Regions from separate parts of the Homo sapiens genome. Here region 1 is linked to region 2. A link means that fine-mapping ties the variant in region 2 to the expression of a gene that starts in the linked region. Tissue or cell type: stomach. Region 2 holds a variant in brackets; the other region holds the start of a gene. All regions are shown on one strand. Distances are from middle to middle.

The links. PIP is the estimated chance that this variant, and not a neighbour inherited with it, causes the effect.
Region 1: it holds the start of DRAM1, and the variant in region 2 is fine-mapped to the expression of DRAM1 in stomach (GTEx, PIP 0.99).

The regions. Positions count from the first base shown.
Region 1 is chr12:101,872,847-101,881,031 of GRCh38, forward strand. DRAM1 (DNA damage regulated autophagy modulator 1) reads left to right here and starts at 4,734. Exons shown (of 7, transcript NM_018370.3): 1 at 4,734-5,074. The coding sequence starts at 4,944. It also overlaps the pseudogene HSPE1P4. RefSeq lists enhancers at 4,138-4,920, 4,711-4,760, 4,921-5,702, 5,341-5,430, 5,571-5,620 and silencers at 4,371-4,530, 4,781-5,120.
Region 2 is chr12:101,898,085-101,906,269 of GRCh38, forward strand. It overlaps DRAM1 (DNA damage regulated autophagy modulator 1), which reads left to right. Exons shown (of 7, transcript NM_018370.3): 3 at 3,207-3,349. Among named protein-coding and RNA genes, the nearest start is that of DRAM1, 25 kb to the left of the region's middle. RefSeq lists an enhancer at 1,339-1,508. The variant G/A (reference allele first, on the strand shown) is at 3,972.

The sequences.
Region 1 (8,185 bases), 25 kb before region 2:
CGAGACTCCACCTCAAAACAACAACAACAACAACAACAATAACAACAAATTAGCTGGGCATGGTGGTGCATGCCTGTAGTCCCAGCTACTTGGCAGGCTGAGGAACAAGAATTGCTTGAACCCGGGAGGCAGAGGTTGCAGTGAGCCAAGATCGCACTACTGCACTCCAGCATGGGTGACACAGTGAGACTCTCTAAAAAAAAAAAAAAAGTAAAAAAGAAGCCAGAACTTTTACATTTATAGTGTATTTATTTTAAATATATATGTATACATACTCTTTTTTTTACACTCATTTACATATTTTTATTTGGAAATGTTTATATCAGTACAAGGAAACAATTTTGGAGACACTGGATGTCATTAGTTTATTATAAAAGAAAAATATGGAAATTATTTACATGATGAAAGATTTCAGAACTTCAGTAGAATGGGCAGCTTCACGTTGATGCCATTTCAATAGTGACTTATTTCAGTCTACGTACTTTCTAAGAATGTCACCATCTCTAAATAGGAAATAATCCTTGTCATCTAGAACTACTTTGGTGCCTCCATATTCTGGGAGAAGAACTTTATCTCCAACTTTCACGCTAACTGGTTGAATCTCTCTACCCTTTCCATAGAACCCCATCCAACAGCGACTACTCTTGCTTGCAATAATTTTCCTTGAGATTTTTCTGGAAGCATAATGCCTCCTTTGGTTACAGTTTCAGCAGCACGCCTTTCAACCAAAACTCGGTCAAGGAGTGGAAGAAACTTTCTAAACGCTTGGCTTGCCATGATTCCCTCCACCTCAGACTCGTACTCTGCTCGCGTGTATACATACTCATCTTAAGTGACAAATTCTTGTTAGCTCTATAGTCAGACAACTCTTTTTTTATTTGAGACTGAGTTTTGCTCTTTGTTGCCCAGGCTGGAGTGCAGTGGTATGATCTCGGCTCACTGCAACCTCCGCCTCCCGGGCTCAAGCGATTCTCCTGCCTCAGCCTCCCGAGTAGCTGGGATTACAGGGGCCCACCACTACACCCGGCTGATTTTTGTATTTTTAGTAGAGATGAGGTTTCACCATGTTGGCTGGGCTGGTCTCGAACTCCTGACCTCAGGTGATCCGCCCGCCTTGGCCTCCCAAAGTGCTGGGATTACAGGCGTGAGCCACCATGCCCGGCCTCAGATTTTTTTTTTTTTTTTTTTTTTTTTTTTTTTTTTTTTGAGACAGAGTCTTGCTCTGTCGTCCAGTCTGGAGTGCAGTTGCGCGATCTCGGCTCACTGCAAGCTCCGCCTCCCGGGTTCACGCCATTTTCCTGCCTCAGCCTCCTGAGTAGCTGGGACTATATGCGCCCGCCACCACGCCCGGCCAATTTTGTTTTTGTATTTTTAGTAGAGACGCGGTTTCACCGTGTTAGCCAGGATGGTCTTGATCTCCAGACCTCGTGATCCGCCAGCCTCGGCCTTCCAAAGTGCTGGGATTAGAGGTGTGAGCCACCGCGCCAGGCCAGACAATTCTTATATCTGTGTTAAAAGTGATTAGCCAATTGAATTGCTTAATTAAGGAAATTACATAAGCAGCAGAAGGGTAAGATGATCAGGTGAATTCCCTTTGATATTATAATTTCTTTGCTTAGGGAGAGTTTTTTTTTTTAGTCTGATGAATCAGTAGTAGGGCACGAAAGGAAAAAAGGGAAGGAATAGAGTGATTTTCAGAACACAGAAACCTAGGTAGAGATTACAATGAAACCATGGTTGCTAACTTTTGTGATTTTTATTTTTTATTTTTAAAATTTATTTATTTATTTAGAGACATAGTCTCTATCTGTTGACCAGGCTGGAGTGCAATGTCACCGTCTCTGCTCACTGCAACCTCTGCCTCCTGGGTTCAAGCAGTTCTCCTGCCTCAGCCTCCTGAGTAGCTGGGATTACAGGTGCCCGCCACCATGCCTGGCTAATTTTTGTATTTTTTAGCATTGACGGGGTTTCACCATGTTGGCCAGGCTGGTCTTAAACTCCTGACCTCATGGTCCACTGGCCTCCACCTCTCAAAGTGCTGGAATTACAGGCGTGAGCCACTGTGCCTGGCCATTTTTTTTTTTTTAAGACAGGGTCTCGCTCTATTACCCAGGCTGGAGTGCAGTGGCTGCAATCTCAGCTCAACTGCAATCTCTGCCTCCCAGGTTCAAGCGATTCTCATGCCTTAGCTTCACGAGTAGCTGGGATTACAGGCGCGCACCACCATGCCCAGCTAATTTTTGTATTTTCAGTAGAGACAGGGCTTCATCATATTGGCCAGGCTGGTCTCGAACTCCTGACCTCAGGTCATGTGCCTGCCTCAACCTCCTAAAGTGCTGGGATTACATTGCACCTGACCATTTTTAAATTTTTATTTGTTTTTGAAATAGAGTCTCGATCTGTGATCCAGGCTGGAGTTCAGTGGTGTGATCATAGCTCACTGCAGCCTCAAACTCCGGGCTCAAGTGAGCCTCCCACGTAAGCCTCTCATGTAGCTGGAACCACAGGTTATGCAACACCACACCCAGCTAATTTTTAAATTTTTTGTAGATATGGTTGCGGGTCTCACTATATTGTCCAGGCTTCGGCCTCCCAAAGCGCCGGGATTACAGAACTGTGAGCTACCATGCCTGGCCAGCTTTTGTGGTTTTTAAAAAGCCTTATTTTAAATTTTCTATTTTGTTTTGTATGGCGGGCACTCACTCCACGGCCACAGTGATCTCTTGAAATACTAGTCTGCCCATGTTCTTACTTTCTCCTTAATACCAAAAATAATCCAAGATTCTCAGCAGGACTCTGGTGACTTTGCCTCTTTGTTTCTCTCTCCATTTGCTGCCTCACACTTATTTAAGTGCTTTCATAGTCCCAGGGAAGCAAGCTCTGTGTATGCATTTCCTCCAGTTGTTTTCTGGGCCTGGAATGCTAATCTTATTTTTCTTTGCCTGGTTAGTAATTACTTCCTTTTGAAAACTCTGATGTCATCTGTCAGAAAACCTCCGTGGTCCTTCCTCTGAGCCCAGGCCCCTGGCCCTCAGCTCTGGGCATGTCTCTACTTTTTAAAATCCTCTCCTTTCCATTTAATAAACCACATAACATAATTTTGTTTTTATTTATTTATATTTTTGAGACAGAGTCTCGTTCTCTCACCCAGGCTGAAATGCAGTGGTGTGATCTCAGCTCACTGAGAAAACCTCCATTTCCCAGGTTCAAGCGATTCTCCTGCCTCAGCCTCCTGAGTAGCTGGGATTACAGGCGTGAGCCATGATGCCTGACTAATTTTTTGTATTTTTAGTAGAGATGGGGTTTCACCATGTTGGCCAGGCTGGTCTCGAACTCCTGACCTCAGGTGATCCACCCACCTTGGCCTCCCAAAGTGCTAGGATTACAGGCATGAGCCACCACGCCTGGCCTAATTTTGTTATTTTGATCTATGAGTGTCCTCGTCCTGAGGGTACTATTACTATTTCATCTTTGTAGCCTAGCATGGCGCCCATGAAATGTGTTTGTGGCTGAAAGGAACCTATCTTTGGTCACCAATGACCCAACAATTTTGGCCACATATGTTGGGCTCAGACTCCCTAAACTATCAAAATCATGTGCTTATATTATAAGTGCCTCCAGAACACAAATCCCTTTCACAGGGCTTGAAATGTATCAAGTCACTATTAATCATCTTAGGCCAAGGCTCCGAGTCTGGGCTACTCCAGAACCTGGAGGGGAGTTTTTTTTGTTTTTTTTTTGTTTGTTTGTTTTTTGAGACAAGGTCTTGCTCTGTCACCCAGGCCGAGTGAAGTGGTGTGATAAAGGCTCACTGCAGCCTCGACCCCCAAGGCTCAAGTGATCATCCCAACTCAGTCTCCCGAGTAACTGGAACCGGCTTTTTTTCTTTTTCATTTTTTTTTTTTTTTTTTGTAGAAGAGGGGTTTCGCTATGTTACCCAGGCTGATCTCTAGTTCTTGGGTTCAAGCGATCCTCCCAACTCGGCCTCCCAAAGTGGTGGCATTCCAGGGGTGATGGCTTTTGGATGCCTCCCAAAGTGATGGCTATTCACGGCGCCCGGCCTGGGAAATCTTATTTCCAGGAAATATTCTCCAGTTGCGCTCTCCTGGAAAGCAGCACAATGGGCCTCCCGGCTCCGTGGGCGCGCAGTCCCACCCGCCTGCCCCGCACCCCACCCGCGTACTCTCCACCCCACCCGTTCCCACCCTGTCTGGGTTTTCGGGTGTTCACCATTGAGGTGGGAGCCACATCTGCGCCCCGTGACCTGGCGAACCTCATTGAACACTTCTGCCCGACCCCCGCAGCAGCAGCGCGACCGGATGGCATGGGTGTCACCACGCGGTGGCCACTCTCACTGCTGCGAAGCGCCGGCGGCGGGACCTCGGAGGGGGCGCCCTCGGGGTGCGAGGCCCGGCACTCCGGAAATCCCCCGGGAGGGAGGGGTTGGGAGAAATAAATCCTTTTCTCCAGAGTTGCGCAAGAGCCAGCGCGGTAGGGCCAGAGTGGGAAGGCCAGAGCGGGCGTCCCCGCCAGTGACCCCACGCCGCCCGTCCGCGCCCAACCCGGCCTCCGCCGAGTGTCCAAACCAAAAGCGAAAGGAACCCGACCCCGCGTCCCCTCCGGCGGCTCCGTAGTCGCGTCCGCTTGGAGCTCGCCGGGCGCCTCCGACCCTGCCGGGCCGCTTTGTGACTTCACTCGTTTCGCAACAAGCCCGGGCAGCCCGCGCCCCACCCACTCTGGCCCGGCAGCCTCGCCGCCCGCAGCCTCGCTCCGCTCCTCGCGCTTCCCCTCCCTCCGGGGCTGGGCCTGCCCCGGCCGTCGCGGAGCCTCCCCTCCCACCGTCCGTGAGTGTACGCGCCCGGCCGCCGCCTCCAGGCAGCCCGGAGCAACCCGGCGCCCGGCCCCGCTGGGCGCAGCACTCCGTCGGCGGCGGCGGCGGCGCGATGCTGTGCTTCCTGAGGGGAATGGCTTTCGTCCCCTTCCTCTTGGTGACCTGGTCGTCAGCCGCCTTCATTATCTCCTACGTGGTCGCCGTGCTCTCCGGGCACGTCAACCCCTTCCTCCCGTATATCAGGTGAGTGGCAGGGTGGGCGTCAGGGCCCCAGGAGCAGGCACAGGGACCACAGGGAGCGCTGCCGACGGGGAGGGAAGGCGTCCGGACCCAGCTTGGGGCGTCGTGTGGTCAGGCAGAGGTGGGAGCAGGAGGAGAGGTGCTCCCGATAGCCTGGGATGTTTAGGGAGGCAGCGGGTGCGGCGCTGAGCACTTCTGCCTGTACCCGGAGCATGGAACAGGGTGGCAGCAAGGAGAGGTTCAGGATAGATGGTAGAGCTTTCATTCTGGGTATGGGACAGAATCTCAGCAGGACGTTCTTAGGCGATATTGAAACAAGATGGGTTCTGATAGATGACATATATTATACAAGAGGTAGATCCAGGTATATGCTAAACAGCCACTATTTTCACTTCTGCATCCCAACATCCCTTGAAGTGGATGTTTGGGCTTATTATTCCCGCAAGCGAGCGGTGGTGTAAAGTTGATGAAATATCATCAACGTGACACTGATGTCACACTAGTTAATGGTAGGAGCAGAATTCACACCCGGCCATGCAGAAAGCAACACTGTGCTGCCCCCAGGTCTCTGGGAGTCTGGCTTAAATTCTCTGGAGCTGCACCAGACACCTCTGGGCACTGTGACCCCAAAGTCCTCAACTTGTCAACAACTTGTGACATCTTTTGTGTTATTTTACCCATTCACTTTTCCTGTGCTTTGGCCTCTACCTTCCTGAGGGGCACTTCAGTGCCAGGGACAGTGGTCTGATCCTCCTATGTGGGTTCCAGCTCAGTGCCTTTCTCATAGTGGCAGGATTCTTTAAACGTTAGAACCATCCATCCTTATCTAAGTAGTGTGACCCCTCTGGACAGGCATTGGTTGGTGAACGGATGATAAGGTTGGTGACACCCAAGGTTTGTTACTGCTATGATAGAAAATGTAGGGCGTCTTCTTCCCTGCAGCCATTCTGTCTGGTGAGCAATGTTCTGTGTTTTTTTGTTTGTTTGTTTGTTTTTTTCCTTTTTTTGGGGGTGGGGGTGAGGAGTGTGGAGAAAGGGGAAACAAAGATCGAGCAAGAGGGGACTAGCATTTTTTAAAATTTTTTTTATTTTTTTGAGACAGAGTCTTGTTCTGTCGCCCAGGCTGGAGTGCAGTGACACAATCTCGGCTCACCGCAACCTCTGCCTCCCGGGTTCAAGCGATTCTCCTGCCTCAGCCTCCCAAGTAGCTGAGATTACAGGCGTGCACCACCACACCTGGCTTAATTTTTTTGTATTTTTAGTAGAGACAGGGTTTCACTATGTTGGTCAGGCTGGTCTCAAATTCCTGACCTCAAGTGATCCTCTTGCCTTGGCCTCCCAAAATGCTAGGATTACAGGTGTGAGCCAGTGTTCCCAGGGAACCAGCATTTACAAGATGCAGGGAATACAGCAATAGGTAGAATAGTGCAAATTTGCAGTAATGATGGTGGTTTTTGCCTATGAAAGGAGATGTTATGTATATCAAGATGTTCTCATCTGGCCTTTCGGTTTTTTCCATTTATTGTTATTATTTTTTATTTTCAGTAGAGACAAAGTCTCACTATATTGCCCAGGCTGGTCTTAAACTCCTGGGCTCAAGCATTCCCCTTGCTTTGGCCTCCCAGAGTGTTGGGATTACAGGCGTGAGCCACCACGCCTGGCCCTCCCATCTGGTATTATGCTTGGAAGAAACCTAGGCTTGGTTTCTCATGGCACATCTCAGGCCCAAGTGCCATCATCTTGCTTCTGAAGCAGGATAGATCCTTCTAGACTTGTGTAAAAGTAAAGACCTGCTCAGCTGGGCACAGTGGCTCACGCCTGTAATCCCAGCACTTTGGGAGGCCGAGGCTGGCGGATCATGAGGTCAAGAGATCGAGACCATCCTGGCCAACATGGTAAAACCTCATCTCTACTAAAAATACAGAAATTAGCTGGGCGTGGTGGTGCACGCCTGTAGTCCCAGCTACTCGGGAGGCTGAGGCAGAATTGCTTGAACCCGGGAGGCAGAGGTTGCAGTGAGCCGAGACAGAGCTACTGCACTCCAGCCTGGTGACAGAGCGAGACTCCATCTCAGAAAAAAAAAAAAAAGGTAAAGAGCTGCTCTACCTGCAGTGCTGCTTCTTTTGTTTGTTTGTTTGTTTGTTTTTTCAGACAAAGTCTCGCTCTGTTGCCCAGTCTGTGGTGTGGTGGTGGGATCACAGCTCACTGCAGCCTCGACCTCCTGGGCTCCATTGATCCTCCCACCTCAGCCTCCTGAATAGCTGGGGACTGTAGATAGGCATGCACAACCATGCCCAGCTAATTTTTAATTTTTTTTTGTATTTGTAGAGATGGCATCTTGCTGTGTCCTGCAATGCTTCCTTTTTTTTTTTTTTTTTTTTTTTTTTTAAGACAGAGTCTTGCTCTGTCGCCCAGGCTGGAGTGCAATGGTGCAATCTCGGCTCAGTGCAACCTCCACCTCCTGGTTCAAGCAATTCTCCTGACTCAGCCTCCCAAGTAGCTGGGATTACAGGCACCTGCCACCACGCCCAGCTAATATTTTTGTATTTTTAGTAGAGACGGGGTTTCACCATGTTGGCCAGGCTGGTCTCAAGCTCCTGACCTCAGATGATCCACCTGCCTCAGCCTCCTAAAGTGTTGGGATTACAGGCGTGAGCCACCACACCCAGCCTGCAGTGCTTCTTATTGAGAAAACAGTAGTCATGTTTGTCCCAGATCTGAAGGTTGAGGACAGATAATACGTGATATTCATTGGCCAGGCTGTCAAAGGCAGGTTTTGAATGTTCATAGAGGTGTCTGATGTAGTTGTGATTAATATCACTCTAAGGTGAACTTGAAATGGGAGACATTCAGAAATGGGAAAATAAGCTGACAAGGTGAACCACTTATGAGATGCTCAAATCACAGACCCTACAAGGAAGGGGTTTAAAATTTAACAAGGAAGCCTTCAGGAAAAGCAGAATTACAGGAGAAAAAGGCATGCCCCCTTGTTGCCAGGAGTTCTCAGCCAACACACAACAAACATTTGTACTGATTGCCCATGTGTGCCTGGGTCTTTTAGGTTGTTTGCTCTCTGCTTACCTGAGCAGCCGGAGCACTGGATTGCCCCTGCCC
Region 2 (8,185 bases):
ATCACGGCTCACTGCAGCCTCAACCTGCCAGGCTCAAGCAGTCCTCCCACCTCAGCCTCCGGAGTAGCTGGTACTACAGGTGCACACCACCACGCCCAGCTAATTTTTTGTAGTTTTTTGTAGAGATGGGGTTTCACCATGTTGCCAGGCTGGCCTTGAGCTCCCGGGCTTCAGTGATCCACCTGCCTTGGCCTCTCAAAGTGCTGAACTTATAGGTGTGAGCCACTGCACACGGCCTTGTGTATAATTTTTTTAAAAGCACAATCTTTGCAGCTAGATTTTTGTCCTATTTTGAGAAACTGAAGTTAAAAGATATAAAAAATTATGGCTTTATTAGAGAACTATACTTTAATTAGTAATTTGTAACAGGATTTGCTGTAGGTGGTTTTAAATACCAAACTTCTGGAACGGATTTTAAGTGCAATTTAGTTTTTAAAAGTGTTGATTTATGGTCAAGACACTTATGTAAGCCAAAGACACCCAATGCGTAAGCTAAGTTTCTCAAAGTGTATTCTGAAGGCAAGCTGATGAAAAGTCACCTGGAGTTCTCGTAAAATGCAGGTTCCTGGGCCATGCTACTCAACCAGAACCTTTGGGAGTGTGGGTTCCTGAAGATGTGTTGTAAACAAGCACTCTAGGGGACTTGGTTTCTCACTAAAGTTTGAGGACCATTGACAAAGGCATTATCTTACCTGTTAGAGAAAGGGGACAGGTGGAGCAAGGAATAGTATGATTTTTCTTTTCAGTTCCTCAGATGTACCTAAGATGCAGATGATAGGGTGCAACCTTGTCATAAGCCAATTAATGTAATGCATATTAATTACAACTATTGTATAATTAATGTAAAGCTCAGTCTTCTATAAGGTGATTCAAGTATATAGATATCAGATGTGGGGCATTTTCTCTTAGTCCTTCTATAATCTCCCCCCAAACAATCAAGTGTTTGCCAAGGGCCTATCTTGTAACCAACGCTTTCTGTTCCTCTCTACTGGTACAGTGTGAGAAGGGACAGTGATGCTGACCCTACTTAGTGACTTGGCATTTTGGAATTTGTTCATCCTACTTGGTAGCAGGAAAGTTTCACCGCATCACCATTTGTAGTCCTCCTAAAGTTTTGGAGGTGAGCAAGGGGAAGTAGCAATATGGAGTCAGTCAATCCCAGTGCCCTCTTACACCATCCTTGCCAAGAATCCAGACTTGGAAAACAGAGAGATTATTTTATCACAGCAAGTGATAAATACGGCTTTTGCTTCTGAATAAAGCAGAAACTGACAAATATATTCATTTGAAATAGTCTATGTGAGCTCATGCCTGTAATTCTAGCATTTTGGGAGGCTGAAGCAGGAGGATCTGTTGAGCCCAGGAGTTCAAGACCAGCCTGGGCAATGTAGTGAGATCTCATCTCTACAAAAAGTTAAAAAAGAAAGAAAGAAAGAAAAAAGAAGTTAGCTGGGTGTGGTGATGTGTGCCTGTAGTTCCAGCTACTTGGAAGGATAAAGTGGAAGAATTGCCTGAGCCCAGGAGGTCAAGGCTGCAGTGAACCATGACTGTGCCGCTGCACTCCCACCCAGGTGACAGAGCAAGTCCCTGTCTCCACAAAAAAAAAAAAAAAAAAAGATTTATGATAAGTTATTAGTTTTTAGCCTGCTTTTTAAAAATTCAGGAATAGATTATGGCCGTCATACTATGTAAATATATACACATCTACTTTATCCTTTCCACACATGCATGATATCTTTCACAAGGATGTATTATCATTTATTTAATCAGTTCCCTATTGTCCAACATTTAGGCTATTTCTGGTATTTTGTAATTCTAATGTTGAAGTGAACATCTTTTAAATATATCTTTGCATATTTGTGTGAGTTTTTCTATAAGATAAATTTGCTGAGTTAAAGGGAATATGTATCTAAAATTATGGTAGCTATTTATTTATTCAACATTTACTAAGTATGTACTATATGATAGGGTTTGTGCTTGTTTATGACTTAGTGTTGAGTTTACAACAGCCAACAAAACAGACAAGAGCCCTGCTCTCATGGAGGCTACATTTTATTGCCAAATTACAACAAATGGTATTTGGTTAATTGACTAGCTATTTGGAAAAACATACCTTTACTATCCTCCTCACATCATACACAAAAACCAATTGCAATTTAATAGACATGAAAAGCAAAACTATGCAATAATTAAATTACAGGAGAATATTTTTTAAACCTTGGAATAGAAACACAAAACGCAGAAGAATTGATAGATATGAGTAGATTAAAAATTAAAACTTTCAAATGATGTAAGATACAAGATACAATGTTAAAAGACAAATAGCAGAGCAGAAGAAAATTTGTAATATTTATAGCAGATAATAGACTAATGGACATAATGTGTAAAAAGTAACTACAAATTAGATATCGACAAGCCCAAGAGAAGAATAAAAAGAAAATTGTAAACATGCATTTCTCAGAAGAAGAAATGCAAATGACCAGTAGATATACTGAAAGTTGCTAAATCTTGCTAATGATCAGAGAAATGCAAACTAACCCAACAGGTTGAATTTTCATTTATTAGACTGACAGAATTAAAAAGGCAAGGGCATACACAATTGCTCGCAAATTCTGCTGGTGGGAGTCTAAATCGTCAACGGGCTGGAGCAATTTGGAGGTGTTTCTAATTGTGCATGGTTTTTTGACCCAGTAATATTACTTCTAGGAACTGGTCTTTCAGAAACCCAAAGATTTATATACAAGGATATTCATGGCGTGTTGTTTGTAGCAGGAAAAACATGGAAACAATGTAGAAATTCATTCTTAGGAGAATGAGGAATAAATATAGTATCTCATACCACAGACCATGATAAGATCCCTGAAAACAATGAAGTAGATCTGTTTGTACTTGCTTGAAAAGATCTCCATGGTACACTGTTAAATGGAAAAAGCAAGTCACAGAGTAATACATGTACTATAATAGCATTTACATGAAAAGGACAACAGCCAAGGGGTGTGTGTGTGTGTGTGTGTGTGTGTGTGTGTGTGTGTGTGTGTGTCTGTACATGCTGGGGAGAGAGTAAGATGGAGTCAGGAGGGACAGGGGTGGGAAAGTGGGGAGACTTGCAATCAGTACATTTTTAAAAAGTGATACAAAGCTGCTCCTGTTTTTCATCCTAAAGACATCAAATTATGAACATTCATCAAAGTTCTCTTCTTTTTCAGGTGCAGCCACGATGTATACAAGATACAAAATAGTACAGAAGCAAAATCAAACCTGCTATTTCAGCACTCCTGTTTTTAACTTGGTGTCTTTAGTGCTTGGATTGGTGGGATGTTTCGGAATGGGCATTGTCGCCAATTTTCAGGTATAATCTGGAGCTTTTTCAGTTATGAGGAGTGGTGGAGTGTATGTGTCTGAAGAGAGCAGCAGAAATGCAAGAGGCACACTTATGCCATTATAGCCATTAAATGCTTGATGAGTTTACAATAAGTGGGTTAGTTTGCTTTTTAGAAACCTTTAACATTTGGAAATCAGGGCCAGGTGTGGTGGCTCACACCTGTAATCCCAGCACTTTGGGAAACTGAGGTGGATCATGAGACCAGGAGTTCAAGACCAGTCTGGCCAACATGGTGAAGCCTCATTTCTACTAAAAATACAAAATTAGCCAGGTGTGGCGTCACATGCCTGTAATCCCAGCTACTCAGGAAGCTGAGGCAGGAGAATTGTTTGAACCTGGAAGGTGGAGGTTGCAGTGAGCCGAGATTGTGCCACTGCACTTGACAGAGCGAGACTCTATCTCAAAAAAAAAAAAAAAAAGCATTTGAAAGTGAGTTCTGATACTTGGGAGAAATGGGGTGCACATTTGCATGATTATGAGAGTGTGTGATTCAGAGGAGGCCTTGGGCTTTGCATTGCTCCATGTTGTCATTGATGTGGTTTGATGTGTTGGGAGAGCTACTTCAGCTACTGTGATGATTTTGTTAAGA[G/A]TGTGAAAATATTTGTATGTGTTTACCAATTCTACCATTTAAACCTCTGGTATTCAAAGAGGAGGCTCCCGGTGACATTTCTTTATATTTTTATGACAGTATGCATTTTGTTTTTCATAACAACAAACATTTATTGAAATTTTCCTGTGACACATGTTTAAGAAAATATTCCATATTTTAACCATACAATTATAATAAAAGCCTTGTAAGATAGGCACTATTATTTTCCCCATTTATCAATGGTAAAATGGAGGCCTAGAGAGGTTAATACTTGCCTAAGATCAGTTGAATAATGCATGGCAGAGGCGAGCTTTGAATTGAAGTCATCTTCCTAGAGCCTGTGAGAGCTATCCTCAATGCTAACATGAAGATATATCTGTGACAAAAAAACCAAGTACACGATGCATAGTTCTACCATCAGGATGCACACACACACAAAATTTAAAAAGGAAGACCTAGAGTGGTATAATTTGTCTAGTACAGTGTGGTTATGGTTTAATGGGGGCTAGTATAGATATATCACTTTATCCTCTGACTAACCACATCATGAGAGATACAGATGTCAGTTTTTAAACCATTTAAGGGCTGACTTTAAGAAGAAAACTTAGATGGTTAAATAATTTCAACTTTTGGTTCCCCTTAAGTCTTCAATGATGTGATTAAATCCACAAAAACCAGAAATAGAATCTTAACTTCCCAAGGAGCAAAGTGTTTGACTTGTCATTGTTCCGATAACTGTATCTTTACAACTTCCTTGTTTGGTATCCTGTAATTCATTTTCGTCATATCAGGAGCAAACCAACTTGAGCTAACTCAAGATGATTTTGAGATGTGTGGGCAAGAGAGAGTGTGACTGCCTCTTTTTTTTTTTTCTTTTTTTGTAGAGACAGAGTCTTGCTCTGTCGCCCAGGCTAGAGTGTAGTGGCGCGATCTCGGTTCACTGCAACCTCCGCCCCGGGTTCAAGTGATTCTCATGCCTCAGCCTCCCGAGTAGCTGGGATTACAAGCACCCACCACCATGTCCAGCTAATTTTTGTATTTTTAGTAGAGATAGGGTTTCCCCATGTTGGCCAGGCTGGTCTTGAACTCAAGTGATCTGCCTGCCTTGGCCTCCCAAAGTGCTGGGATTACAGGCATGAGCCACCGTGCCCAGCCATGGTGATTTTTCTTGAGTTGCAATAAATCACATTTTTGAGAATTTCACAGATAATCTTTTTCCCAAATGGGTGGGTGAGATGGCTACTTTTTGGTGTGTCCTCACTAACTTCTGTCAATACTTTATTTTCCCTCAGAAAGTTTTCTTTTTGAAATTCTGTCATTTGTGGCAACATGGATGAACCTGGAGGACCTTATGCTAAGTGAAATAAGCCAGTCACAGAGGGACAAATACCGAATGCTGTCACTTATATGTGGAATCTAAGAAAATCAAACTTACAGGAGAGAGTAGAATGGTGTTACAGGAGTGAAGAGGAAGATGAGGAGCGGGGAGGTATTGGTCAAAGGGTACCAAGTTTCAGTTAGACTGAATTAATAATTCTGGAGATCTATTACTGCACAGTATGGTGACTATAGTTAATAATAGTGTATTGTATATTTCAAAATTGCTAAAACAGTAGATTTTAAATGTTCTCATCACAAAAAAAATGAATAAGTATGTGAGGTGATTGATATGTTAATTACCTTGATTTAATCATTCCACAGTGTAAACATACATCAAAACATCTACAGCCAGGTGTGGTGGCTCATACCTGTAATCCCAGCACTTAGGGAAGCCAAGGCAGGAGGAATGCTTTAGCCCAGGAGTTTGAGACTAGTCTGGGCAACATAGGGCAACACAGGGAGACCGTGCCTCTGGAAACACACACACACATACACACACACACACACACACACACACACACACACACCCCTATAAGCCTCATAAATATGAACAATTATTATTATTTTTTGAGACAGAGTCTCTCTCTGTTGCCCAGGCTGCAGTGCAGTGGCGCGATCTTGGCTCACTGCAACCTCCGCCTCTCAGGTTCAAGCAATTATCCCTGCTTCAGCCTCCCGAGCAGATGGTATTACAGGCACCTGGCACCATGCCCAGCTGATTTTTGTATTTTTTTTTAGTAGAGATGGCGTTTCGCCATGTTGGCCAGGCATGTCTTGAACTCCTGACCTCAGGTGATCCTCCCACCTCGGCCTCCTGAAGTGCTGAGAGGTGTGAGCCATCGTGCCCAGCCTATAAACAATTATTATTTGTCAATTAAAAATAAAAACTTTTAAAGTTTCCTTTTTAGAAAAGAAACTTTCCAAGGTTTAACTCTGTCAGTATTCACATATTCTTTTTTTTTTTTTGAAGCTGAGTGATAGAGCTTTAGGGGTTTTTTTTTTTTTTTTTTTTTTTTTTTTTTTTGAGACAGAGTCTTGCTCTGTCACCCAGGCTGGAGTGCAGTGGCGCAATCTCGGCTCACTACAAGCTCTGCCTCCCGAGTTCACGCCATTCTCCTGCCTCAGCCTCCCAAGTAGCTGGGACTACAGGCGCCCGCCACCACGCCCGGCTAATTTTTTGTATTTTTAGTAGAGATGGGGTTTCACCACATTAGCCAGGATGGTCTTGATCTCCTGACCTCGTGATCCACCTGCCTCGGCCTCCCAAAGTGCTGGGATTACAGGCGTGAGCCACCGCGCCTGGCTGATAGAGCTTTATTAAACTATTCTCTCTCTCTCTCCCTCTCTGTTGTTATTACCTTTTAAATTACCAAGAGAGTTTCTAAAAAGCAATCCAGAAAGAGTGCCGGGTTTTAACTTTATCGAAAATTCATGTCTGATCTAAACATCATTTCCCTGCTTTTTTGATTGATTGGTTGAGAAAGGGTCTCGCTCCTTCACCTAAGCTGGAATGCAATAGCACAATCATAGCTCACTGTAACCTTGAACGCTTAGACTAAGCCTTGAACTCCTCCTGTCTCAGTCTCTTGAGTAGCTGAGACTATGGGTGCATCACCATGCCCAGCTAATTCTTATTTTCACTTTTGTAGAGATGGGGTCTTGCTATGTTTCTGAGGCTGTTCTTCAACTCCTGGCCTCATGTGATCCTCCCATCTCCACCTCCCAAAATGTTGGGATTACAAACACAAGCCACCATACCCTGTCGTATTTTATTTTTCATATATAACTTCCCTGAATCTATATGCCTATGTTAGGAATCTTATTTATTTATTTATTTGTATTTGTATTTTTACCTTTATTTTTTGAGACAGGGTCTTGATCTGTTGCTCAGGCTGGAGTGCAGTGGTGTGATCATGGCTCACTGCAATCTCTGCCTTGTGAGCTCAAGCAGTCCTCCCACCTCAGCCTCCTGAGTAGCTAAAACTACAGGTTCATGCCATCATGCCCAGCAAATTTTTGTAGTTTTTGCAGAGACAGTGTTTCACCACATTGCCCAGGTTGGTCTTGAACTCCTGAGCTCAAGTGATACACCTGCCTTGGCCTCCCAAAGTGATGAGTTTACAGACATAAGCCACTGTGCCCAGTCTTTTATTTATTTTTATTTTATTTTTTGAGACAAGGTCTCACTCTGTTGCCCAGACTAGAGTGCAGTGGTGCTATCATAGCTCACTGCAGCCTTGGTCTCCCAAGCTCAAGTGATTCTCCCACCTCAGCCTCCGAAGTAGCTGGGACTACAGGCACACACCATCATGCCCATCTGATTTTATTTATTTATTTATTTATTTATTTATGTATTTATTTATTTTTTGAGATGGAGTCTCGCTCTGTCTCCCAGACTGTATGTAGTTCAGTGGCACAATCTCGGCTTACTGCAGTCTCCACCTCCTGGGGTCCAGTAATTCTCCTGCCTCAGTCTCCCTGGTAGCTGGGATTACAGGCACGCGCCACCACGCCTGGCTAGTTTTTGTATTTTTAGTAGATACGCGGTTTCACCACGTTGGCGAGGCTGGTCTCAAAGTCCTGACCTTGTAATCCACCTGCCTCAGCCTCCCAAAGTGCTGGGATTACAGGCGTGAGCCACAGTACCTGGCCCATGCAAGGTATCTTAGGTATACAGAAACTATATGATGTATTGCAGAGTCAGTGCAGTCATATTTGAATATAACACCAATCATGTAATCAATTTCTCCCCTTATTTCTAGGTTTGATACTAGGAAATACATTTCCTTAGAAATAAGTTAAAAGGTCTTTTTTTTTTTCTGCACCTCCCTTTC